Regions from separate parts of the Homo sapiens genome. Here regions 1 and 2 are each linked to region 3. The links come from fine-mapping of genetic effects on gene expression. A gene starts in region 3. Each other region holds a variant in brackets. All regions are shown on one strand. Distances are from middle to middle. Region 1 overlaps MAP3K5 (mitogen-activated protein kinase kinase kinase 5). Region 2 overlaps MAP7 (microtubule associated protein 7). Region 3 holds the start of MAP7 (microtubule associated protein 7).

What was found. PIP is the estimated chance that this variant, and not a neighbour inherited with it, causes the effect.
Region 1: its variant is fine-mapped to the expression of MAP7 in coronary artery (GTEx, PIP above 0.99).
Region 2: its variant is fine-mapped to the expression of MAP7 in blood mononuclear cells (TOPMed, PIP above 0.99). The same link has a PIP of 0.9 or more in T cells, lung, monocytes, subcutaneous fat, tibial nerve and whole blood.

What each region holds. Positions count from the first base shown.
Region 1 is chr6:136,580,863-136,589,046 of GRCh38, reverse strand. MAP3K5 (mitogen-activated protein kinase kinase kinase 5) reads left to right here. Exons shown (of 30, transcript NM_005923.4): 24 at 5,307-5,492. Among named protein-coding and RNA genes, the nearest start is that of MAP7-AS1, 32 kb to the right of the region's middle. The variant C/G (reference allele first, on the strand shown) is at 3,601.
Region 2 is chr6:136,361,437-136,369,620 of GRCh38, reverse strand. It overlaps MAP7 (microtubule associated protein 7), which reads left to right. Exons shown (of 18, transcript NM_003980.6): 9 at 3,182-3,294; 10 at 3,603-3,886; 11 at 6,919-7,171. It also overlaps the pseudogene RPLP1P8. Among named protein-coding and RNA genes, the nearest start is that of BCLAF1, 76 kb to the right of the region's middle. The variant G/A (reference allele first, on the strand shown) is at 3,694.
Region 3 is chr6:136,547,111-136,555,294 of GRCh38, reverse strand. It overlaps MAP7 (microtubule associated protein 7), which reads left to right and starts at 4,873. Exons shown (of 18, transcript NM_003980.6): 1 at 4,873-4,953. The coding sequence starts at 4,887. MAP7-AS1 (MAP7 antisense RNA 1) reads left to right here and starts at 2,790. Exons shown (of 1, transcript NR_186370.1): 1 at 2,790-4,572. RefSeq lists silencers at 4,572-4,921, 4,962-5,141, 5,152-5,201 and enhancers at 4,423-4,960, 5,499-6,037.

The DNA.
Region 1 (8,184 bases), 34 kb before region 3:
TAATGTCCACCTCTTTAGATCTCATAGAAGGAGCTGAAAGGCCATATATGTGCCAGTAGGGCCTCAGTACAAGGAGAGCTGAAATGAGTGTTTTCTACACACTCTCAAAAACCTTGACTTGGGTCCTAAAGGAAAGCTGTCTCGGGCAGTTACTCTGAGGCCCAGGAAGAAGGTGCTCTAGAGTGAGGGGTAGCTGGCCTCTGAGTCCAGGGAGGATGAGTGTCATGCATGCTTCGTGGCGGTGGAGACTGGAGTGGTCTCGAGCCATCAGCTTTCTCTCTGGCCTTTCCTTTGGCTCACGGTGATCATTCAAAGACTGAGAATAGGACTGGGTTGACCCAAGAAGAGGAACCAAGCTGGATGGAGAGAGCAGCTGGGCAGCCCTTGGAGTTCTTTCATTTATTCATTCAACAAATACTTATTGAGCATCAGTCGAAGGCCAGGCACTGTACTATGTGCTGGGGATGCTGTGGCGAACTGAACAAAAATATCTGCATCCCCTTGAAGTTGACATTCTAGCAGAAGAAGAAAAACTATACATATATATAAAACATATAGTAATAACAGCTAACATTTTCTTTAGGCCAGTTACTGTTCTTAGTATTCCATGTGTATTTGCTCATTTAATTTTCATGACAGTAATACTATACCAATAGTTCTATTAGCATCCTCATTTTACGAATGAGGAAACAGGCACAGAGGACTTGAGTAGTTTGCCGAAGTCATGCAGTCCTAAGTGATGGAGTTAGGATTTTGACCCAGGCAGTTTGGCTCTGAAGTTTTTGCTTTAACCACCACATTGCTCTGCCTCGCTGGTAGGCCCGATGGTGACAAGTGCTAGGAAAACATAAAGTGGGGTGGGGATTAGGCATTGGAGGTGAAGAAAGAAAGTAAATCACCATTAGCCACTGCAGAGTGAAGGCCTCTCCTGTGGACCTTTAAAATGCTTGATTTTAGGTCAAAAACACATAAAACCCAGGAATTGCCTAAATCTCTAATTACCCCCAAAGAATGTGCTTTTCCAGTACAGGAAATGCCAGTTTGTTGGGGTCTATTCTTTGTCTCCCTGCTGGACCATAGCATCATCAGGGATAGGACTGCCTTGGTCATCACTTCTATGACTGTGCTGAAATAGTTAAATGTGGGAGTGGTTAGTCATATTCAATTGTTTGGTGCCTCCTGGTTTTAAAGTGCATTTGAATGTCCTCTGTAAAAGGAGAAATGAAAGAAAACCTTAAAAGCAACCATCAGAGGGCATGCCTTAGGGGACCAGCATGAAGCTACCAGTGAGTACCCGAAACTGCTGATCAGAATCACATGCTGAATCCATAATGGCCACATGATGGTGGGGCCCTTCTGACTGCTGTTAAGGATGTTGGGAATCCTTTCCTGTGACATCAAATGGTGATTCAGTGGTAGAACAGGTCCTGACCCAGGTTGACAGCTGCTATTGCAGGTCATTGGGGCAGTAGAATAGAATGGTTAGGAGCTTGGGCTTAGCTTGCTGTTTGAGGCCTGGTTCCATCACTTAAAGGCTGTGCAATTTGGGCAACCGATTTAACTTCTCAGAGCCTGAACCTCCTCATCTATGATAGAGGAGTCTACTTTATAAGCTTGCTATCAGGAGTAACTGAGATTGTGAGTGATTTAAATCATAACAGAAAATATTCCACAATTGTTAACTGTTATTGTTATCATTATCAAGCAGGCTAATAATAGTTATCTAATATCTTTAATTTTTTTCTACAATCAATCAGAAGTAATTATTGCCATTGTATTGTTTCTAGATACATATTTGTATCTATATTTAAGCCTACACTTTATAACAAAACCAAATCTAGATATTGGTCAGGTCCTCAAACCCTTAAACCATGAAAAGCCTTTTAATCTGTAACATCCTTCTGAAATCCTTTCCTGGTTTTTGAGGAAGTTTAAAGGATAAAGACTGGAGAGCATCTTTGCAGAAGACCCTGTGTGTTAGTCAGGGTTCTCTAGAGGGACAGAACTAATGGAATACATATATATGTAAAGGGGAGTTTATTAAGTATTAACTCACATAATCACAAGGTCCCACAATAGGCTGTCTGCAGGCTGAGGAGCATGGAGAGCCAGTCTGAGTTCCAAAACTGAAGAACTTGGAATCTAATATTTGAGGGCAGGAAGCATCTAGCACAAGAGAAAGATGTAGGCTGGGAAGCTAGGTCACTCTCTCTTTTCACATTTTTCTGCCTGCTTATATTCTAGCCACACTGGCAGCTGATTAAATTTTGACCACCCAGATTAAGGGTGGGTCTGCCTTTCCCAGCCCACAGACTCAAATGTTAATCTCCTTTGGCAACACCCTCACAGACACACCCAGGATCAATACTTTGTATCCTTCGATCCAATCAAGTAGACACTCAGTATTAACCATCACAACCTGGTACTAGGAGTGCAGGAAATGCATACCGTTAAATCTATGCTGATGCTGAGTCAGGCTCACCAGATACTAGCCAAGATGCTTGTTTTTGAAGGCACATGAGTGAGTTAACATGGAGAGACTGGAGTCAGAACAGAAATAAATGATGACGTAAGTAGATGAAATAGTCTGAACAGAAAACATTTCCCAGAGTAGAGCATGTTCCTTTGCAGGACAGTAGCACACACATCAAAAAACCAGAAGCAACATGTTTTTCTGTTGTAAAAACAAAGTTAATGTCGAAAAAAAAGTTTGCCATTTGAAGTTTGCTATTGGCAAACATGTTGCAACTGAGTTTTTACTAAGAGAAGCTTCCAATTTCTGCATAACTCACATTTTTCTTCTTGAACATGTTTTCATGATGTTATGATTTTGCCTGTGAATCTTTACCTTGGGTGCAGTTTAGTTTGTGGTAAGGAAAAAACCAACAAAGTTTATAATGGTTCCCATTGTGATTTTAAAGTATTCGTTTAATGACAGCTTTCAAGCTTTTCAATATAATCTTATCTCATGAAAACATAAACATGAGACCAAGCTTCCAAATGAAAATATATTAAGAGAAAGAACTCGATGGTGCATTTCTTTTTTATTTTAATAGACTCCTAGAAATTATAATTTTCACAGCCCAGTGGAGGAATTTTAATTTTAATGGTACAGTAAGAAAATGTACAATATAAAATAAAAATGATATAATAGTTTCTTAAAGTTTCTTATATTTTCTTAAAGTTAAATGGGAACAAATAACATCCTACTGTGCTTCCTTAAAGAAGCAGTGTGGGCTGGGCATGGTGGCTCATGCCTATAGTCCCAGCACTTTGGGATTACAGCACTCAGGAGGCTGAGGCAGGTGGATCACTTGAGGTCACGAGTTCAAGACCAGCCTGGCCAACATGGCGAAACCTCAGCTCTACTAAAAATACAAAAGTTAGCTGGGCATGACAGGTGCCTGTAATCCCAGCTACTTGGGAAGCTGAGGTAGGAGAATCACTTGAAGTTGGGAGGCAGAGGTTGTTGTGAGCTGAAATGGAGCCACTGCACTCCAGCCTGGGTGACAAAGCAAGACTTTGTCAAAAAATAAATAAATAAATAAATAAATAAATAAATAAATAAATAAAGAAAAGAAAAGAAAGGAAGCAATATGC[C/G]TTGCTCAAAGGAGAAAAGTTCCATCTGAGGTTGGGGAAAGTGGCTCACATCTATAATCCCAGCACTTTGGGAGGCGGAGGTGGGAGGATCACTTGAGCCCAGGAATTTGAGACCAGCCTGGGCAACTTAGCAAAACCCAGTCTCTACAAAAAGTTTTAAAAAAAATTATCTGGGTGTGGTGGCACATGCCTATAGTCCCTAGCTACTCAGGAGGCTGAGGTGGGAAGAGAGCTAGAACCCAGGAGTTAGGGGCTGCAGTGAGCTATGATTGTGCCACTGCACTCCAGCCTGGGTGACAAAGAGAGGCCCTGTCTCTTAAAAAAAAACAAAAAAAAAAAAACAAAAAGAAAAAATCATTTTGAGAAAGAGCATTTGTTTGAACATTGTAATATATTTTAGTGTAATAAAATAGTCCATCGGTCCGTTCTTAGAAGCAATTGCTTCATTGATGGGTAAGGGGTAGTTTCAAAAATGAAGTTTGAGATCAGCCCCTCTTGGTTGCAAGGAACTGACACACCGTTAGGACAACTGAAGTACCAAGGACATGTTATAGGTAGACACGCATAGCAATAAGGGAAGTAGACTCTTAAGGAATTCCAATCATAGTGCCTAGCCGAGTCTCACAGACACTGAAAACAGAATATGAGCCTGAGGAACTTCAAGTCCCCGGAGTTTGCACATCTTTTCTCTGGCTTGGTTGCTGTTGACCTGCTTGGTGTGCATTTCTGTTCTTGTCCACTTCTCCTCTCCCTCCCTGATATGGTTTGGCTGTGTCCCCACTCAAATCTCATCTTGAATTGTAACTCCCACAATTCCCATGTGTCGTGGGAGGAACCTGGTGGGAGGTGATTGAATTATGGGGGCAGGTCTTTCCTGTGCTGTTCTTGTGATAATGAATGAGTCTCACAAGATTTGATGCTTTCAAAAAATGGGAGTTTGCCTGCACAAGCTCTCTCTTTTTGCCTGCTGCCATCCAAGTAAGATGTGACTTGCTCCTCCTTGCCTTCTGCCGTGATTGTGAGGCTTCCCCAGCCACGTGGAACTGTAAGTCCAATTAAACCTCTTTCTTTTGTAAATTGCCCAGTCTCGGGTATGTGTTTTCAGCAGTGTGAAAACGAACTAATACACTCCCTATTGTCTTTCTCAATTCCATTGCTTCTGCTATGGTTGGACATATTCATGACCCTATTTTATAGCTTCTCTTTCCGGGCAGACTTTCAGGTTGAGATCCTATGGCTTATTGCTCAAATCTCTTTTTAGTTCCCAATTAAAATTTCTGAAAGAATCTTATGGCCTTAGTCTTTTTGGGCAAAGCTTTGTTATCTGACTATATCATGGCTACTGACCAGCGTGTGGGGCAGGTACCTTTTCTCTCTGATTATTTCTTGGTGTTGGTAGGAGGATTGAAGAGGTGCCATATAGTTCAAAATATGGTCTTTCCTTTGGAGACATTTGGAAGTCCAGTTCTTCTCAGAAAGGGCTGTGGGAAGTATGGTGGCTCATGCCTGGAATCCCAGCACTTTGGGAAGTAGTGATGGGAGGCTCGCTTGAGCCCAGGAGTTCGAGACCAGCCTGGGCAATATAGTGAGACCTTGTCTCTACCAAAAGAAAAAAAAATGTGGGGGCAGGGGGTATGGAGATAGGATTACCATGGCAGGTATATCCAGCATATGTTGATGTAAGGATTGTTGATTTTTATTCACAGGGGGCTGAAGAACCGAAACTAAAATGGGAACACATCACAACCCTCATTGCAAGCCTCAGAGAATTTGTGAGATCCACTGACCGAAAAATCATAGCCACCACACTGTCAAAGCTGAAACTGGAGCTGGACTTCGACAGCCATGGCATTAGCCAAGTCCAGGTGGTACTCTTTGGTTTTCAAGATGCTGTAAGTATGATATTTTGCCAGTGTTTTCCCACACACTAAAATTAGTTAGAAAAATAAGATAAAACATAAGTTCTGTTATTTTTCTTTTAAAATTCCAGTGAACTCTATTCTTTTTGGATGAAAAATGTGAGATATTCGCCTCTCAGTGTGCTTCTAAGTATCTGATTTGTTGTTTTGTGTGTTTGCATTCCCCAAATTAAAAAACACATAAAACCAAATCACCATGGAAAATAACAAAATATTTCCCATGGCTGAACTTCGTTCTTATGAAATTATGTTGGGTCATTGTTTATTTTGACAACTTTAGCAACGTAACACACTTTAGTCATACATTTTCTAATGCTATATGAGAAATGCCATCTAGTGGCCATTGAGAAAAATTTAATAGTACAGATTGAAATGGTCACTGCTGAATAAAACCAGTTAATTTTTTTCCAGTTTTTCTCTAGTTTTCATATAGAACATTTTTAACATGTTTGTTTCATAAATACCTACTCTGTTCTAGCCAGAAGTATACTTTCAGAGTACAGAGCATCACTGATTAAAAATTAAAGCACATGATCTAATGAGAGATTGCTGAGAAGTCTTCTCTCCAAAATTGAGTTGCTATGCAACACAAACTAAAGCCAGTCTTCTGTACTGCATTCAGAACCCTCTGTGTTATTCTTGGGTGAGACTTATCTGTGGAACTCAGTGCCAAAAAAGCCTCAAGCCACCTCCAGGAGACCCTTAACAAGATGTGGGAGACTGAAATAAGAGGGTTCTTGATGGTGCTTGTGGTATAAATATGGAAGTATAATTTTATTTAAATTCCAAAATTAATTCAGCCCTAATGTGTGTATTGCTTCTTTGTAGAAAGTGTGTTGACAATTTTATTTGCAACATCAAATGATCCCCAATTTAAAGCCAAATTAGAATCCTTCAATAACTACTAGCATTCTCTGAGACACTGTGTAAGCCACTTGGTCTTTATGCTATATTGTGGGCAGGGACAAGAGTCCTGAGTTGATTGAGGGCATAAGAAATTAAAGCAACTGGCAAAGCCTATCACTAATATTAAATGCTAAAAGCATGCTTATGCTGCAACTAGGGAAACCCAACTGCCTGCAAGTAGAGTGAAATAATTTAGCTAATTTGCACTTGCCCACACATTTGGCCTCTAGCCTAGAGGTTGGAAAGCAAGTTTGCTGTAGAATTCAGACTGAGAGCTATTGGGTTGTACTCCTGGGCCTTGGGCCAGGTCAGACACACACACACACACACACACACACACACACACACACACACACACGTATACACACACGTGTACACATACACGCCTGCTCTTGCTCATTCACTGTCCAGGATGAGAATGAACCCAAAGTATGGGCCCTATGATGTAATTTGCTATGTAATAAAGAGCTGAGAGGAGCAGGTTATGGTTATAACAGATCCCTCTTCCACCTAATAAGAATGTAAATTTTTTTTTTTTTGAGATGGAGTCTCCCTCTGTTGGCTAGGCTGGAGTGCAGTGGCATGATCTCAGGTCACTGCAACCTCTGCCTCCCGGGTTCAAGCAATTCTTGTGCCTCAGCCTCCCGAGTAGCTGGAACTACAGGTGCCTGCCACCATGCCCAGCTAATTTTTGTATTTTTAGTAGAGATTGGGTTTTGCCATGTTGGCTAGGCTGGTCTTGAACTCCTGGCCTCAGGTGATCCGCCCGCATCGGACTCCCAAAGTGCTGGGATTACAGGGCGTGAGCCACCATGTCCAGCCAGTATGTAAATTTTTTAAAGAAATGAAGGTACCAGGACAAACTCAGCCTGGATGGATTTTCTAGAACAAGTGGGAACCTAGCAAGGGTTCATTTCCTGTGCAACTAGTACGATGAAGTCCTCAAACTGACTCTCTTCCAAACTAGGGGAGTTTGATGAAGATGGACCAAGGACAGGCATGAGCAACTGGAGCTCCAGCTCTTGACATGGGTTTGTGGCTGGGTCACCATCTCCCCAGCTGCAGTAGGGATGGTGATTAAATTTTTGGAATTTAAATAAAATTATACTTCCATAATCATACTATAGATACTCAGAGGTATCTAACCAGAGCCCTGTTGGGGAAATAGCCTCTTTTTTTAGAGGTCTGTGTAAGCCAGCAGGTAGTAGAGTTAACCCAAAATCTAAGTGAGCTTGTCATAGTCTTATGCTAAAAGCTTGTTTTTACAAAGGTAATGCACATGATAAATACATACAATGGAATATAATTCAAGCTTAAAAAGGAAAGAAATCCTGACACATGCTACAACATGAATGAAGCTTAGAGATGTTATGCCAAGTGAAACAAACCATTCACATAAGGCCAAATACTGTAATTCCACTTATGTGAAGGTACCTACAGTAGTAAAATTTATGAGAGACAGAAATTAAAATGCTTGTTTTCAGGGACTGTGGGGAGGGAGAAATGGGAACTTACTGTTTAATGAGTATAGAGTTTTAGTTTTGCAAGATAAAGAGTTCTGTGGATGGATGGCGGTGATGGTAGTACAATAATGTGAATGTACTTAATGCCACTGAACCATACACTTAAAAATGGCTAAGATGGCCAGGCACGGTGGCTCATGTCTGCAATGCCAGCACTTTGGGAGGCTGAGGCGGGAGGATTGCTTGAGCCCCGGAGGCACAGGTTGCAGTGAGCCATGATCCCGCCACTGCACTCC
Region 2 (8,184 bases), 190 kb after region 3:
TTCTGGGCTCTGGATTCTATTCCATTGGTCTATATATCTTTTTTTTTTTTGAGACAGTCTCACTCTGTCACCCATGCTGGAGTACAATGGCACAATCTCAGCTCACTGCAACCTCTGCCTCCCAGGCTCAAGCAATTCTCATGTCCAGCCTTCTGAGTAGCTGGGAATACAGGCATGTGCTACCACGCCCATCTAATTTTTGTATTTTTAGTAGAGAGAGGGTTTCGCCATGTAGGCCAGGCTGGTCTTGAACTCCTGACCTCAAGCGATCCACCCATCTCGGCCTCCCCAAATGCTGGGATTGCAGACATGAGTCGTAGTGCCCAGCCCCATATATCTATATCTGTCTTGATACCATTACCACACAGTACTGATCACTGTAGCTTTTCACCAATTGAGTATCTCTAATTCAAAAATACAGAATGCTCCAAAATGTGAAACTTTTTGAATACCAACATGACACTCAAAGGAGATGCTCATTGGAGCATTTCACATTTCCAGTTATATGGATTAAGGCTGCTAAAGCAGTAAGTGTTAATGCAAGTATTCCAGAATCTGAAATCTGCACACTGTAATCCCAATCATTTTGGATAAGGGATACTCAACCTGTAATATGTTGTGAAATCAGGAAATGTAAGAATTCCAACTTTGTTCTTTTTCAAGATTATTTTGGTTCTTCAGGATCCTTTGAAATTTTCTGTGAATTTTGGGTTGAATTTTTATATTTCTGCAAAAATAAAAAATTATATTGGGATTTCAATAGGGAATGCATGGAATCTGTGGATCCCTTTTGGTAGTAGTGACATCCTAACAGTATTAAATCTTCTAATCCCTGCACACAGGACTTCCTTCCATTTATTTGTGTTGCCTTTAATTTCTTTCAGCACTATCTTCTAGTTTTCAGTATGCAGATCTTTAGCCTCCTTTGTTAAGTTCATTCCTAAGTACTTTATTCCTTTGGATGCTATAGGAAATAGAGTTGTTTTTCAAATTTCCTTTTCTATTTTACTTAATTTGAATTAATTTAGATTTAAATTCAAATAGGCAAATGTGGTTAGTGGCTAAATTTAGAACATCTTCATCATATCAGAAAGTTCTATTAAACAGCACTGCGTTAAAGTATCTGTCAGTGAATCGTCTCTGTTGGAGGATATTTATACTGTATTCTAAACCTACCTTAATTATAAAATTAAAGTCCTTTTCCTGCTGATATGTTGCCCAGACCATTGACTTGCTGAGTATGTGTTCCCCCTCAGCATTGTGGAAACTATTAATAGGAAAGATGATTGTATAGATGGTGGGCTATTAACTCAGATCAGGATGAGAATTGGGAGTGCCTTTACATGTGTGGTACCCAAATGGGTGGTTGGATATAAGAGTAACAAAAGGACTGAAAGGTTTAAAAAAGAAAGAAAAAAAAAAACTCCCTGGTTGGGAGGGTGTTAAGTATCGAGTGTTTTTCCAAACCATTCCTCCTCTGCTCACCTACCCCTAGGTGATTAAAGGAGATAACTTTTAAAAAAGAAAGAATTGGCTCAAAGGTACTGTAATTCTAGGATTATATACCTTTATATAGGTTCATTCCCTGATCCCTGTATTATCAAGGCACAGATAATAATAATCCCCAACCACCCCCACGCCACATCAAAAATTGTCCCTCTTGAGTCTTTTTCCCATTTACATCACCCATTGATCTGATTTCAGCCAAATCAAAATGTTTTGAGAAAAAGAAAAAAAAAGAAGGGCTACTTGAGGTACTTAACCCCAGTCTCCCCTGGGAAAAGACCTGGGCATGCCACCCTGTACACCAGCCAGGAGTGCCCCATATGGTGGCTGCAGCTTTTGATACCCAAAGCCCACAGCAGCTCTGTGAGGCCCCACCTCCTACTTTTGGGGACCTAAAATGGGAGAAATGGTGGTTGAGCAGCTGGAAATGATGCAGAGCTGGCACACACCTTGTGAAGCTCTTCTCTGCCTCTTTCTTCATTTTTTCTGTTTAGAAATCCCAGGGAGACAATGAGCATTATTTGACACTTAAATGTTTTTGCTCCTCTGATAACCCAGACCATCAACTAGGATGCTGCTAAGGAAAATGGAGGGAAGCAATTAAAAGGGACACTGAGGGGAACAAAAGGGAAAGGAAGGAAAAGAGGAGTCGATGCTTGAGCCAGGCAGAAAAGGAGAGAAGAAAAGGTACAGTACTAGTTCATGTGACCTGGGGCTAGATAATACTCTGCCCCTTCCCATGTACGCTTGCAGTCTGCCCTCCTGACAGGTGTTCACATAGGTGCCTCCAGCACGTGCCCCTCCCACCTGAGGGCATTGTCAGGTTTCAGATACTTGGAATGGGTCTGTTTTGCTCTGTACAATTTTTGTTTGTTTGTTTTGGTCTTCATTGACTTTAGAGTAGTGGAACACTTCTCTGGGCTTCCCTTTGCCCATTTTGACTTAGGAAAGTGTCATCTCTCAAGCTGAATTCCTAGTTGGCAATCAGGGAGGGGTGATGTTTTGGCCCACCTTCAGATTTCAGTTTATTCCTGGTAAGGAAGAGCAAAAAAATAAATAGCTGAAATTCCTCACTTTAAACCTGACTTTTCTTCAAAATCACCTATTGTATCAGTTATCTATTGCTGCAAGAGGACAGTAGGTGAAGAAGGACTTGATTCCATTATACAACATCAATATAAAAGAAAAAAATGAGTTTATGTCTAATATAGCAGGCATATAATTTTTTTAAAGACTGAGATATAGTGTGTTTGGGGGGAAAATGTTGAAGAATTAAAAAGAAAAAGATGTGTTTTAATTAAAATTTTTTAAAAAATGAAAGTAACATTTGACATTTGTGGGGGATAAACCAGAATGGGACGTTTTGCTTCAGGTAATTAATTTTAGACACAAAGTATAGGTGCTTTCTAAAAGTATGTACACACATATGCTTTTTGACAAATATGACTCCAACACATCCGGAATCACCTTATTAGTGTCACATTGTGTTAATTCAGTTATACTGTTCAGTGTTAAGCTAACAAGGGCCTTTTGTTGAGATGGAATGGGTATATGTGACATAGCTAAGAAAATTTCTTAAAAGTCATTCAATGGTTTCTAGCTCCACTGTTGAGTATTGTGAGTGTGTTTGCCTCGCTTGTGGAAAAATCTAACTATTGAGTTTCTCTGAACTTAGAGCTATAAAAAAGAAAGAGAGAGAGAAAATGTACTCTTCCTCACATCTGGCACCCGAAGGGCTGTATCTCCATCTAATCCCAAAGCAAGACAACCAGCTCGCTCCCGACTTTGGTAAGTGAAATATAAGTGGCTGGCTGGGTTGTTTCATGTTAGAGAATTAGTAGCTCTCTCCTCTGAAAGTGAACTGTTCTTCTCATGCTGTTTGGCTTTGACTTAGGGAATAGCATTCTTCCCAAAAGGAAAGAAAAAAGAGAAATTGGAATGGTTCCCTAAAGCAACTCTATTTCTGTATCTACCACATAAAAAACAAATACACGGAGCTAAATATCTGCATTCTCTTCCATCGAGTCGTGTTCTAGGTTCTGGCAAGCCTGTTCTCATGTGTCCCCTTTTGTCTGCCTTGTTTGTTTGTGGCCCAGGCTTCCGTCCAAGTCTCTTCCTCATTTGCCTGGCACACCCAGACCGACATCCTCCTTGCCACCCGGCTCAGTCAAAGCTGCTCCTGCTCAG[G/A]TCCGGCCCCCATCCCCCGGCAACATCCGCCCTGTCAAGAGGGAAGTCAAAGTGGAGCCTGAGAAGAAAGATCCTGAGAAGGAACCTCAGAAAGTTGCCAATGAGCCCTCACTAAAGGGCAGAGCACCTTTAGTGAAGGTAGAAGAAGCCACAGTTGAAGAGCGGACACCTGCTGAACCAGAAGTTGGCCCTGGTAAGAGCAAACTCACCTGTGGTCTGGGTGCTCTCTCTTTTTCTCCCGCACTGTTTTGATGAAGCTTTTTTTGTTTTCCTTTTCTTCTTTTATTGGAGACTTGGAAATTTTACTCTAAGGTTAAGTTTAATACCTTTCCTTAAGTATAATATTTTAACTTCGCATTGCTTAAAAATAGTTTTTTACTTAGCAACGCTAAGTAAAAAATTACCTGGCAACACTATTCCTGTGCATACTGGAGTTTAAGGACCCCTGGCGTAGCCTGTGTGCTTGATAGAAGTCAGAATTTTTTCCAGAAGACCCACTGGTTTTCACCTCTGCCAGGGTAACCAGATGCTACTTAGAAATGTAAAACCACCTGGAGCTTGAAGTTCAATATCTCTAGTTGAAAACTGTCTTCATTCCAAAGTTTTCTACTTAAGACTTAATTTGAAGATAGAGGGTGGGGCAAGAAAGAGGAGATGATTCAAGACAGGTGAAAATGGTAGAGAAAGGAGGAGTCCAGTGTTTGCTTCCATGGAAAAAGAAAGAAAGGAAAGGAGGGTCATAGAACATCATAATAGCCATGAAAAAAATCTGTGGAAGCAGAAGTAGAAATGTAAATCTCAAATCATACATCCAAAAGCCTATTGATAGAGCCACAAACACGTGAATTCAGGTGTAGGTTCTCAGTGCTTTTATTGGCTGAGTCCATTTCACAAAATGTGTTCAGAGCACCTGCATCAAAATCACCTGTTGTATTCATTATCTATTGCTGCATAATGAATTAGCAGCATGAAACAACAACAAACATTTATCATATCACATGGATTCTTGGGTCAGGAATTTGGCAGCAGCACAGCTGGGTGGTCCCTGCTCAGGACCGCTCATGAGATTGCAGTCAAGCTGTCCACTAGAGCTCCAGTCATCTCAAGACTCAACCAGATCTGAAAGGTGGCTTACATACAAGGCCGGGGGCGGGTGGCCTCAGCTTCTCCACACATGGACCGCTCCATATTATTGCTGAATGTCCTCATCTATCTGCTTGCTCTGCTGGCTTCTGCCAGAGTGAGTGACCTGGAAGAGAGAATGAGGAGGAATGTACAATGTATTTTATGACCCAGTCTCAGAAGTCGCACACCAATGTTTCTGCCACATTCTGTTAAGTAGAAGCAAGTCACTAGGTGGAACTCACACTCAAGGAGAAACATAGTCTCCAACTTTTGAAGAGAGAGTTTTCAAAGAATTTTTTTTAAGAGTTCAGCTTTTTATTGAACTTGTTACAAAAGAGGTTTAGTCAAAAAGACCAAAGCCCATATCCTCCTTGGACTCCTCAGACTCTCTTTTCTTTGCTTCTATTTCTTCTCCTCAGCTGGAACAGCATTGGTGGAGGGGGCAGGACCTTCTGCTGGTGCAGGTCCACGAGCTCCTCCATTGCAGATGAGGCTCCCCATGTCAACATTGGCCAAGGCTTTTGCAAACAAGCCAGTCCAAAAAGGTTCAACATTTACACCAGCTGCTTTAATGAGGGCATTGATCTTATCCTCCTTGACGGTCACCTCACCCTCATGCAGAATGAGGGCCGAGCCTTATGCAGAATGCAGGCGAGCTCAGAAACAGAGGCCATGGTGTGAGCAAGTGTGGGGCTGGCACTGCCAGGCAAGGTGCTAGTTGCCAGATGAAGTGAGGGTTCCACTTCAATGTGGCCCTACATTCCTCAGAGGGACCGAGTGCAGCTTGGCAGCAGCTGAGGAAAACTGGAAATATTTTTAAACCACCACATCTATAATGTTTTGACATACAGACCCTTGGTTTTTACCTCAGACTTACTAAGTCAGAATATGTAGTGGTGGATATGAGGACTCTGAAAGATACTAAGCTTGTCAGTTGATTCCTAAACATGGTTGCCAGATAGAACACAGGGTGGCCAGTTAAATCTGGCAATGCTATTCCTGTGCATACTGGAGTTTAAGGACCCCTGGTATAGCCTGTGTGCTTGATAGAAGTCAGAATTTTTTTCCAGAAGGCCCACTGGTTCTCACCTCTGCCAGGCTAGCCAGATGCTATTTAGAAATTTAAAACCACCTGGAGCTGTGAATTCAATATTTCTAGTTGAGAATTGTCTTCATTCAAAAGACTTAATTTGAAGATAGAGGGTGGGGCAAAGAAAGAAGAGATGATTCAAAACAGGTTAAAATGTTAGAAAAAGGAGGAGTCCAGTATTTGTTTCCATGGAAAAAGGAAGGAAAGAAGGGCTAGAGCATCATGATGGCCGAGAAAAGTCTGTGGAAGCAGAAGTAGAAATGTGACTCTCAAAAGGAGGGGCTGGAGCAGCCAGGGGCCAGAGCTTGCACTTGCTGGTGCCTTGCTCACTGTGGTGCAGAATTGTGAGCATCAGTGTGGGGCTTCTGGGGCACCAGCTCTCTAGGTCATCTTCCTAAATCCGAGTAAGGCCAGAGAACTTCTGCTCCCATCTTGCATCTTGGCAGCTTGGGATATATAAGCAGAATGAGCACCAGCTCCCAAAGAGGCCCCGAGCTCCTCCCATCTCAGACCTAGAGACAGCTCTGGGGAGACAAAAGGGTCCTCTTCATAGGGTATCATCTTCCCAGGCTGAATCTGGACTCATGGCATGGATGCTGAGGATGCTGCTCTAGTAATGAATGGTTACCGAAGAGTAGGAATTTTCAAATGCAATAAAAGACAAATGGATGATCTCATCTTCTTTTTGCTCAGTGTATAACTCCCCACAGACTCTAACATGAGGCTTTGTACACATTCAATATATGTTAACTGATTTAACTGGTATAAAAATAAGACTTGGTGACAGAGTGTCAGCTTTGTTGGATGTCTTACTTACACATACTGATTTTTTTTATCTGTTGCTTGGTTACAGATAGAACATAGTGAAACCGTGAGAACACACAGTAATAAACATTCCCTTTTCTTTCATAATGGTAAATTCTAGGCCTTGGATGTGGGGAATGCTAGTTTTGGTTTTGTTCTTTGGATTTTGTTTCCAACTGGTTTTCTCCTTGTACCTATTTGTGCAGCTGCTCCAGCCATGGCCCCAGCTCCAGCCTCGGCCCCAGCTCCAGCCTCGGCCCCAGCTCCAGCCCCGGTCCCCACCCCAGCCATGGTCTCAGCCCCGTCATCCACTGTGAATGCCAGTGCTTCTGTTAAGACTTCTGCAGGCACCACCGACCCAGAGGAGGCCACAAGGCTTCTAGCTGAGAAGAGGCGGCTGGCCCGAGAGCAGAGAGAAAAGGAAGAAAGGGAGAGGAGGGAGCAGGAAGAGCTTGAAAGGTAAATGGGAGACATTGCTCCACACCATGGTGTCAGTGATACTTTGGATTAACTCATCACCCCTCTGAGAGGGAGGAGGTGATAATACTGATGAAAGTGAATGGATTAGTTCTTTCAGGATTACTCTTACCTAATTTTCCTATGACTACTAAGCAGTTTGTTTTTTAAATCACATCTTCTTCTTTTTTTTAAATAGAAATGGGGTCTCACTATATTGCCCAGGCTGGTCTCAAACTCTTGGGCTCAAGGGATCCTCCCACCTGAACCTCCCAAAGTGTTGAGATTGCAGACATGAGCCACCATGCCCAGCCATGTTTTCTTATTTTAATGACAGTGCAACAACATTGATGGAGAAAGCTTTAAAGAAAAAAAAAATCCATAATCATACCAATTTTCAGTAATAGTGTACATTTTGGGTGGTCCTTTCTAGTCTCTCAACAGTATGGGAGTGTGTGTGTATATATACATACATATACATATTTACATAATTATAACCACAGCAGAGGTACAATTGTACAGTCTGCTTTTTTACTTAACACATCTCCAATCTCCAGGTTTCCGTTTTATCTTTGTAATTATCACATTAAGGCTGCATAATAAGGGTTCATGTTTTCTCCTTTCCAGATAAAACTCCTCTCGGAGGGTAGCCAGGTGGGATCTTTACATGCCCCATGATTGCCTGCCAGGCAGTATTCCAGAAACAGTTTGTTTAATTGGTCATCTTCTGGGCCTAATAAGACGAATGTCAATATAATTGTTCTTCAAACGAACACAACTGTACCCTGGGGAAGGATCTCATGCACTCGCTGGACCGCCATCTTGGCCATGCCTTTCCCTTGGCTCCAACAGGGAGCTTACATGGCTGTCTTCCTCCTGTCCTGTGACAGAACACTGTGACCCTTATTTATTTACAAAGATTCCCTTTGGCTGGGGTGCTTCAAATTCATTACTAAGAAGTCACATTATTTGAATTAAACAAGTCAGAGCCTTTAAAAAATAGTTAAATTCCTTCC
Region 3 (8,184 bases):
ATTTTGGGTCTCAGGCACAAAAGAAGACAGTTCCATTATGGAAGACTCCATTATGGAAAGGTTTGCATTTGAAACGCTTTTAGGATCAATCTAGGCCAGTGATTCTCAACTCAGCTTCGCATTAAAATGACTTGGATGCTTTTTCAAAAATATTGATGCCACCACCTTGGGACAACTGAGTTGTTGTTGTTATTTGTTTTTTCTTGGGACAGAGTCTCTGTCACCCAGGCTAGAATGCAGTGGCACTGTCATAGCTCACTGCATTCTTGACCTCCTGGGCTCAAGTAGTCCTCCCACCTCAGCATCCCAAGTAGCTGGGACTACAGGCATGCACCACCATGTCTGGCTAATTTTTAAATTTTTTGTAGAGACAAGGTCTTACTATGTTCAGCTCACTCTGGTCTCGAACTTTTAGGCTCAAGTGATCATCCTGCCTCAACCTCCCAAAGTGTTGGGATTACAGGCATGAGCCACTGTGTCCAGCCGGAAAACTGTTTTTACTGGTCTGGGGTTGGGCCCAGATACCCTTTTTAAAAATTAGTTTCACAGGTGTTTTAACATGATCAAGCTTCACCTCCTTATTTCAGGTAACAGCTAGAGAGGGAAATGGAGAGCCCCTTTCTATAGAGGGAATAGCAAGATGGTTAACGTTCATCATTTGTTTAGCGTAGCAGGAGGCTACACACCCAGGCCTGAAGCAAAACTGTAACTTGACTTGTGACCTGGAACAACTGAATTAGTTTCTCCAAGTCTCAGCTTCCTCATCTGTGAAATGGAGGAAATGATGTACCTTCCACATAGGTCTGCTATAAGATGTAAATAAGAAAATGGAGGCTGGGCGCAGTGGCTTGTGCCTGTAATCCCAGCACTTTGGGAGGCCGAGGTGGGTGAATCACTTGAGGCCAGGAGTTCAAGATCAGCCTGGCCTACACAGCAAAACCCTGTCTCTACTAAAATTACAAAAACTAGCCAGGCGTGGTGGCGCACGCCTATAATCCCATCTACTCGGGCGGCTGAGGTACGAGAATTGCTTGAACCCAGGAGGTGAATGTTGCAGTGAGCCGAGATCACGCCATTGCAATCCAGCCTGGGCGACAGAGCAAGACTCTGTCTCAAAAAGGAAAAGACAATGCAGGAGAGGTGCTCAGCACAATGCTTAGCATACAGTAAACACTGAGATATGCTTGCTATTGCCATCACTTATCCTTCATTCAAAAGTATTTATTAAATACTGGGTACTACATATTGTGGTGCACCAACAAGATACAGTTCTTTCCCCTGAAGTTTCTTGTCAAGGAATCAAGACAAAGCAGAAACAACAGTGGTGCAGTCAGTGCTATAGTTACATTTACTGTCAGAAGGGGTCAAGGAAAGCTTTCCAGAGGAGTGAAGGTGCAGAGCTGAGCCTGGAAAGATGGTTTGAAACAGAACAGTTAATGCAGGGGTGGTGGCAGTGTTATAAAAGAAACAAAACAGGAATTTGCTGGGAGAAGTAGATCTAATGTTTCCTTTTAACTGCATTTTGATCTCTTTCTTCTGTCATTGGATACTTGGTTTCGTTCATCCCTAGGCCACCACATAAAAAAGCTTGGCATTGAGGAATTATTAACCCATTTGAATGCCCACTGTGTGTGAGGCACGGTAGCAACACAAAAGATATATACCATGCCTACCAAGTTCAGAATGCAGGCAGTGCACATGATGTCATCAAGAACATCTGCAACTCGTGAACAAATAAAATAACTGATAGTTCTAGACTTTATGGACACCCTGTAGAGAAGTAGAGGACAAAGACCCTACTACCAAAAATGTGCATCAGATTGAGAAGGCAAATTTGCAATAACTCATGCCTAGTCTATTTTAACAGCTGGACAAGTATCAAGCCCAGCAAGCCCTGGCCAGGTCCAAAGGACAGGCATGCTGGGAGCCAGGGCAGGAAGAACAGGCTTCATGGAGGAAGTAGACCTTAACCTGGGCCTCAAAGGGAAAGTATTATTAAATACGTCAGGATGAAGGACATCACTTCGGGCAGAGCAGCTTCAAGCACAAAGACTAGAAAGCAGGGATTTGGAAGGTGTTCTGGAGAATGAACAACTCCATGGGCTAGAAATATGAGTTACAGAGGTGAAAAGTGGAAATGGGTAGTAGAGAGCTCAGGGCCCAATTAGGGGGTGGTGGTGGTGATGGTGAGGAGGTGAAGTTAATATTTACTTATATAGGAACGGGGAATCTATTAAAGGTTTTTGAGCAAGGGAGAGGTATGTGTAAAGTGATTGTATATTGCAAGATTAATGTGGTTTGGAACATATTAAATTAACAGCAGGGTATCTTGATAGAATTGTGCAGGGACCATTCAGAATGTATTAGTGGAAGTCAGGAGTGAGGTTAAGGGTATATATTCTGGAGTTGGGAGTCACCAGGATCCGGGATGGAAGTAATAGTAAATGAGGGCTGTGAGAGACAGTAAAGATAAAAAGCCTGTGGTTTACAATTAGGGGATGGTAAAAATATTGGAGGATTAGAAGGGAGGAAGAATCTGAGTCAACAAAGACGAAAGGACTGCTACAGAGGAAGGAGAAAAACCAAGCCAATGGTAGACCAAGAGCAAGGTGATTAGAGGATCAAGTGCTGCAGAAACTCTAGGGGAATGATGGATTTAAAAATAAGTAATTTGATTTGTATACATAAGCAAGAAAAACTATTAATATATAGCTTTTTTTGAAAAATAACGGCACCAAAATCCACATTTATTTTTATTACCTTTGGTGAACAAAACATACGACAATAGATTCTGGAGGGTGGGACGTTAAAGGAAGACATTTTAAGAATCAAAGAGTCTTAGCTGTGTTTATTGGGGTAGAGCCCTTGGGTGCAGAAACATTTAGGGATTCGGGAGAAAAAAGGGATGATGTTTGAAGGAGGCAGGAGGGAAGTGGACGGTGTCAGGAGGTTCAGCTCCTCCCCTGGAATGGGGAACCCTGAAGATTTGAAATGGATGTGGGAGCTCCAGACAGATGGCTTCCATGTTCCAAGTAAAGTACAACTTGAAGTACGACGTGATGGTGTTTGACATTTAACAGATGTCATCTGTTCTCTGCAGAGTCACTCAGCAGCCTCCCCTGTTGCAGACACCTCCTTAGGTTTGGAACACACTGTCTATACAGGGCCTAAGTGCAGGATTTTGGTGTGTTCCTTATTTCATTTATTTTTGTTTAACTTGTGGCAGATAAATACAGGTTATCAAAAGAATGGGACAATGAGTAAGCACACACCAAACTAAACAAAACAAAACAAATAGAAACATCACAAGTCTTGAATTTTTTTTTTTTTTTTTTTTTTTTTTTTTTTTTTTTTGGTCAAAGAAAGAACTCATTGGTTGATTTAAGTCGGTGGTAAATCAGAAAGTTGAAAATAAATCACCCTCCTTCTCCAGGGTTCTTCCGGATAGTTCAACTCTAAATTCAGCTGAGAGTATTTCTGATGCTCAAAGAAAAGTGTCTTAAACTCTGATGTTTTAATGTAGTTAAAAAAAACACAAAAAATCTTTGCTGAGGCCCAAGCTGAGGTCAAAAACTACCTCTAGCCATCTGGTGCTTTATTTTTATTGATTAGAAGTCTCTGATAAGACTGATTTGAATGTGATTTAGGAATATCACATTCTAAATGGTCAGTTTGCCTATTCCATTATAGAAATGACACTACGGGAAAATTCATCATCACAGACCACAGCAGAAGTGTTCTTTAGTTAAAGCTCTACCTAGTCATCCAGAAAGCCAGTAAGTAAACCAAATAAAAATAGTTCACTGGGCTCAGAGTGGCAAGTTTTGCATGCAAAGATCGTGAAAATTGTAACCCTAACAATAAATCCAATACTGTTCTCGACTCTCTTGTGTGTCCAGTGCTGCTGCAGTCCTTGGAAGGCTTTTAAACTGTTCAGAGCTTGCTGGTTATCTTCAGCCAAGCCAGAGAGTGGGAGTGCAGTGCATTTTAGTGTAACCATGCGGAACTGGTCGCTCCTTGATTTTGTGCCGTATGTTTCCATTTGTGTAGGCTTTTTCCCCCCTCAGTATTTTGTTGCTTATCCTTTAGAGCGAAATTGGTTTTTCCTCGGCCAATAATCTGTTTCTTTAAAAAAAGAAAAATTCGTTACCTATTGCCTTTTTTTCTGGTCTTCCTGAGCAAGCCAGAAGTCACAAGGTCGTTTACTAAACGGAAACTAAGAAAAAGAAAAGCCACATCAGCCGGCACAAGCCTCTCTAACTTGTGTGCCCTGAGGCTCATCAGATGCGAAGTCCTGGCGACAAGATAGGGTCGCCCGCAGTGGCTTCCTAAAGCGCAGATCCAGGCCGGCTCCCAGCGTGGAATCCGACCCATGTACTTCGCCTCTCCACGTGGCATCAGATGCTCTGCCGGCTGTCACCGTGAACTCCAGCCCTCGCGGAGCCGACACTGACCTGGCTACTTCAGAGTTCGGAGGGAAATAGCGTCTCCGTACCCTCGCCCCACCTGGGCTGCTCCTCGGACCGCCGCTCGTCCCAGACTCCAGGAGGCGCCACCAGGCCTCGCTGACCCCGCTCCATATCTCCGGGAGCCCTCAGCTGGTCGGCCGCGGCGACCGGAAGCTCCGGACTGAGGTACTGGTTCCGCCCGCCGCTCTTCCAGCCGAGACTCGGCAGCGGCGGTCGGAGCGGCTGCCACGCCGCACCTGCCCGCGAGGGGGCGCGCCAGGCCCAGGCCGCAGCCGACTGCCGCGCTCTCTGTCCCCGCCCTCCGCCATCCCCGGACTGCGCTCACCTGTCTGGGCCGCTGGCCTGGGAGGCGGGGGCCGGCGGGAGCCAAGCCGAGGAAAGGGCGGAGCGGCTCTCCGGGCGCGTCATCGGAGCACCATGGCGGAGCTAGGAGCTGGCGGCGACGGCCACAGGGGCGGCGACGGCGCAGTGCGAAGCGAAACAGGTGACCGCACAGCGGGGATAGTGGGGGTCCCGTCGGGCAGGGGACGGCGAGCGGGGCCGGCGGGCTGGCACCGAAATCACCCGGCGCCGGCAGCCCCCTCCCCGCCCGCGCGGCCGCGGCCCGGAACAACCGGCCCTGCGCGCCGCGCACCCTGCTCCGAGAGCGCCTTCCCCCGCCCTTCGCCGCCGCGGCTCGGCCAGCCCGGCTCGGCCCCGGCCGGGGTTGCGGCCGCCCTCGGGCGCTCCACCGCGACTTTCCCGCAACAGGTGGAGGCGAGCCGGGGGAGGAAACGGAGAGACCCCGGCCGCTGCCCTCCCCGCCGCGGCCTCGGGTCTAATTCAGTTGAATGGGAAATCGTATCCCCCAGACCAAACCAGTGGCCAGAGAGTCGTCGGCCAGGTGCGACTGGCAGGACGAGCAGTTTCTGGGCACCTCCTCCCGCCTTCCCTGGTCGCCCCGGGTGCCGGGGGCTCCTCAGCGGGGTCGGTGTGGGGCAGGACCGCGGGGTGAGCGGCCCGCCCCCCAATCTGGTGCCCGCAGTGGCGACGACCGTCGTCCGAGGGGACCGAGCTCGGGAGGGCCGGGGCCCAGTGCAGCACGGTGGGGGTTTGCGAGTGCGGGCTTGACGGGATCAGACTTTCGTTGACTTGTCGGAGTTCTCAGAGTTTTTTGTTTTTAGTCTGTGCAGGAGCCCAAAGGAGGATTGTTGGCTCTGCAGCCCGGGATTTGGTGGTCAGGCCTCTGTGTTGAGGATACCCCTCCCCCACAACCTCCAGGGGCACACTTAGGGACAGGGGATCACGTCCCCAAGACCAGCAGCAAGGCTTCCCAAGACCAGCAGCAAGGCTTCCCAACCCCGCCCATCTCTCCATAGTATGAAGCCGATTTTTCTCCCTCGTGATTTTTTTTTCTCCAGAGGCTATCTTGCAAATCCGTCCCTCTCCACTGGTTCCCTCTTCTATTCTTGGCCAGTAAGCTGTTTCTATATCTTCCTACACTTGGGGATGGGGGCAGTGAGGCAGTTTCTTACTTTAAAAAGAAATTCAATTCTTAGACTCTCCAATTGCAAGCTGTTTTCCACTTCCATACGGTCACAATCGGAAGCATTTGTTTCCTAAATGTAAGAATCACTGTCTCCCCACCATCAAGTATGCTTATTTTAACGTGAAAGGTCCAGAGAGCTCTGAAACAGTATTTGCAAATTATGTATCTGCTATTGCTAGGAAGAGGTTGGGTACGTAAAGTCTAATGATTTAATCCCTTCAGCCAAGATACCTGAGGTTAAGACTGACAAAGTATCTTGAACTTGTTTAAGTCATGCTCCTTCCTGTAGGGAGTTTGTCTTAATGTGTTCGCAAGATTGGTAGATCATTATTTTGTTTTGGGGTGGAGAAGAGATGCCTTTGTAATTGCTTTCGGGAATTTGATGAGCTAGACGCTGGGACGGGGCTCCCCCAAGTGAGGGCCCCGGGAGAGGAGCATCCTCATTTGTAAATATACGGCATGATTTTCGTTCCTAACCCTGACCCAGTAACTGCATGTGAAACAACATTGTTCTAGCGAGCTAAGTGTTAGTTTGTGCTCAAAAATAAACTTTCTAGAATCTGCACGTGAACAACTTGTTCAGACATAAGTGAACTGACTACAAACTGTAGGATATTCAGTGCCTGAGCATGTTAAGGAATAGGCCGTGCTTCCAACAATTAATATACAAATCAACCATGTGCCTGTCAGTGTAATATTTTCTTTTATTAAAAAGGGAGTTAAATTGGCTGTTATCTCCTTCATAGAAAACATTTCTTCCACACTTTTGCCTAAAAACTTCATTTTCCAAAGGACATTTTTTATATATGGTCTTGAATAATTATACTTTATAATTTCACTGAAAACTTAATTCTGGCCCCGCATCTCTTTCCTATTTTTCTACCCCAAGATTACTATTAATGTTTTTAGTGTTCAGAAGCATTTGTGTCAGCAGGTGCCAAAGAAAGAAGGAAGGTGTAAATGTATTTTTTTGAATCTAGGTGGTAGTTATTTTGAGAGAACAAGTGAGATTGTTTGAATTTCAACAACTTAAGTTATTCCATATATTTAAAACACATGACCTATATCTGAATATGAGACTTTAATTTAGCACTTCATTCTGGTGAACATATTTCACATTATACACATCCAAATACTGCAAGTCTCATTTTTTTAAACAATCAGAAGTTTGTATGGAATTGTTGGGGGGGTGGGGGGGGGTGGTGGTGGTGGGTGGCCGTGGACAGAGAAACTATTACCATCAAGAGTTGAAAATTGCCACCTTAAATGGCAACATTTCTTGAGGGATTAATTTTATTTCTTTTTAGAACTCATTATTATGAGGTAGAGTCCACTCTTAAATAACTCTTAGTTTTTGGGTCTCTATACAAAGACTGGTCTAATTTTAGGGCACTTTAGATGAGAATATCAGGTTATTATAAAAATGATACCTGTAATGTGTTCAGAATTATATGTGTGAGTGTGTGTGTGTGTATATGTGTATCAAAGATGAATTGACAGTGGTGGCGTGTGGCCTATGAAATGAGACCGTTCTTAAGCATATTGAAAGCTATTATATAAACCCAACATTTAAAAACCCTATTTCTGTGGGTATATATTCTCAAAGTTAGTCAAATCACATTCTTTGTGGCGAAAACATTTATTTTTCTTGAGGATGAAAAGTTCTTCCAATATAATATTTTTCTTGCCAACAGCCAAAGTTAAGAGCTGGGAAAAAAAAAATTGCCTTGGAAACAAGTTTAAGACATCACCACTAGAGGATGTCAAGTCCTTTTTCAGCCTTTTTTGAGTAGTCGACCTACGATGGGTGATATTCACAAAACTGCCTCTACCCAAGCTTTGTATATTTAATTTTATGTTCATGTTCAAGAGCTGTGGAAAGCGAGTGTACAGCACTAATTTCCTAGTCTGATAGCCTGTTTTAAAAACCTCCTGAACTAAAAGCAAATTTAAAGCTGCTTTTGATTAATTCATGAAGCTTTCATGCACGAAGGAATAAGTTAATGCCAATAACCTGTCAATTCTGTTGATATTTTGGGAAGTGGGTCATGACTTAGAATCTGGAATTGGGCTTTTTGTCCATTTTAGCAACCTGTGTGGTGAACATGGCCTCTTTCGTGACCATCCTTTCATGAACTTTTCCAAATCAAAAAGTGATCTTGTAGGTGTCACTTAACTCTAAGGGTC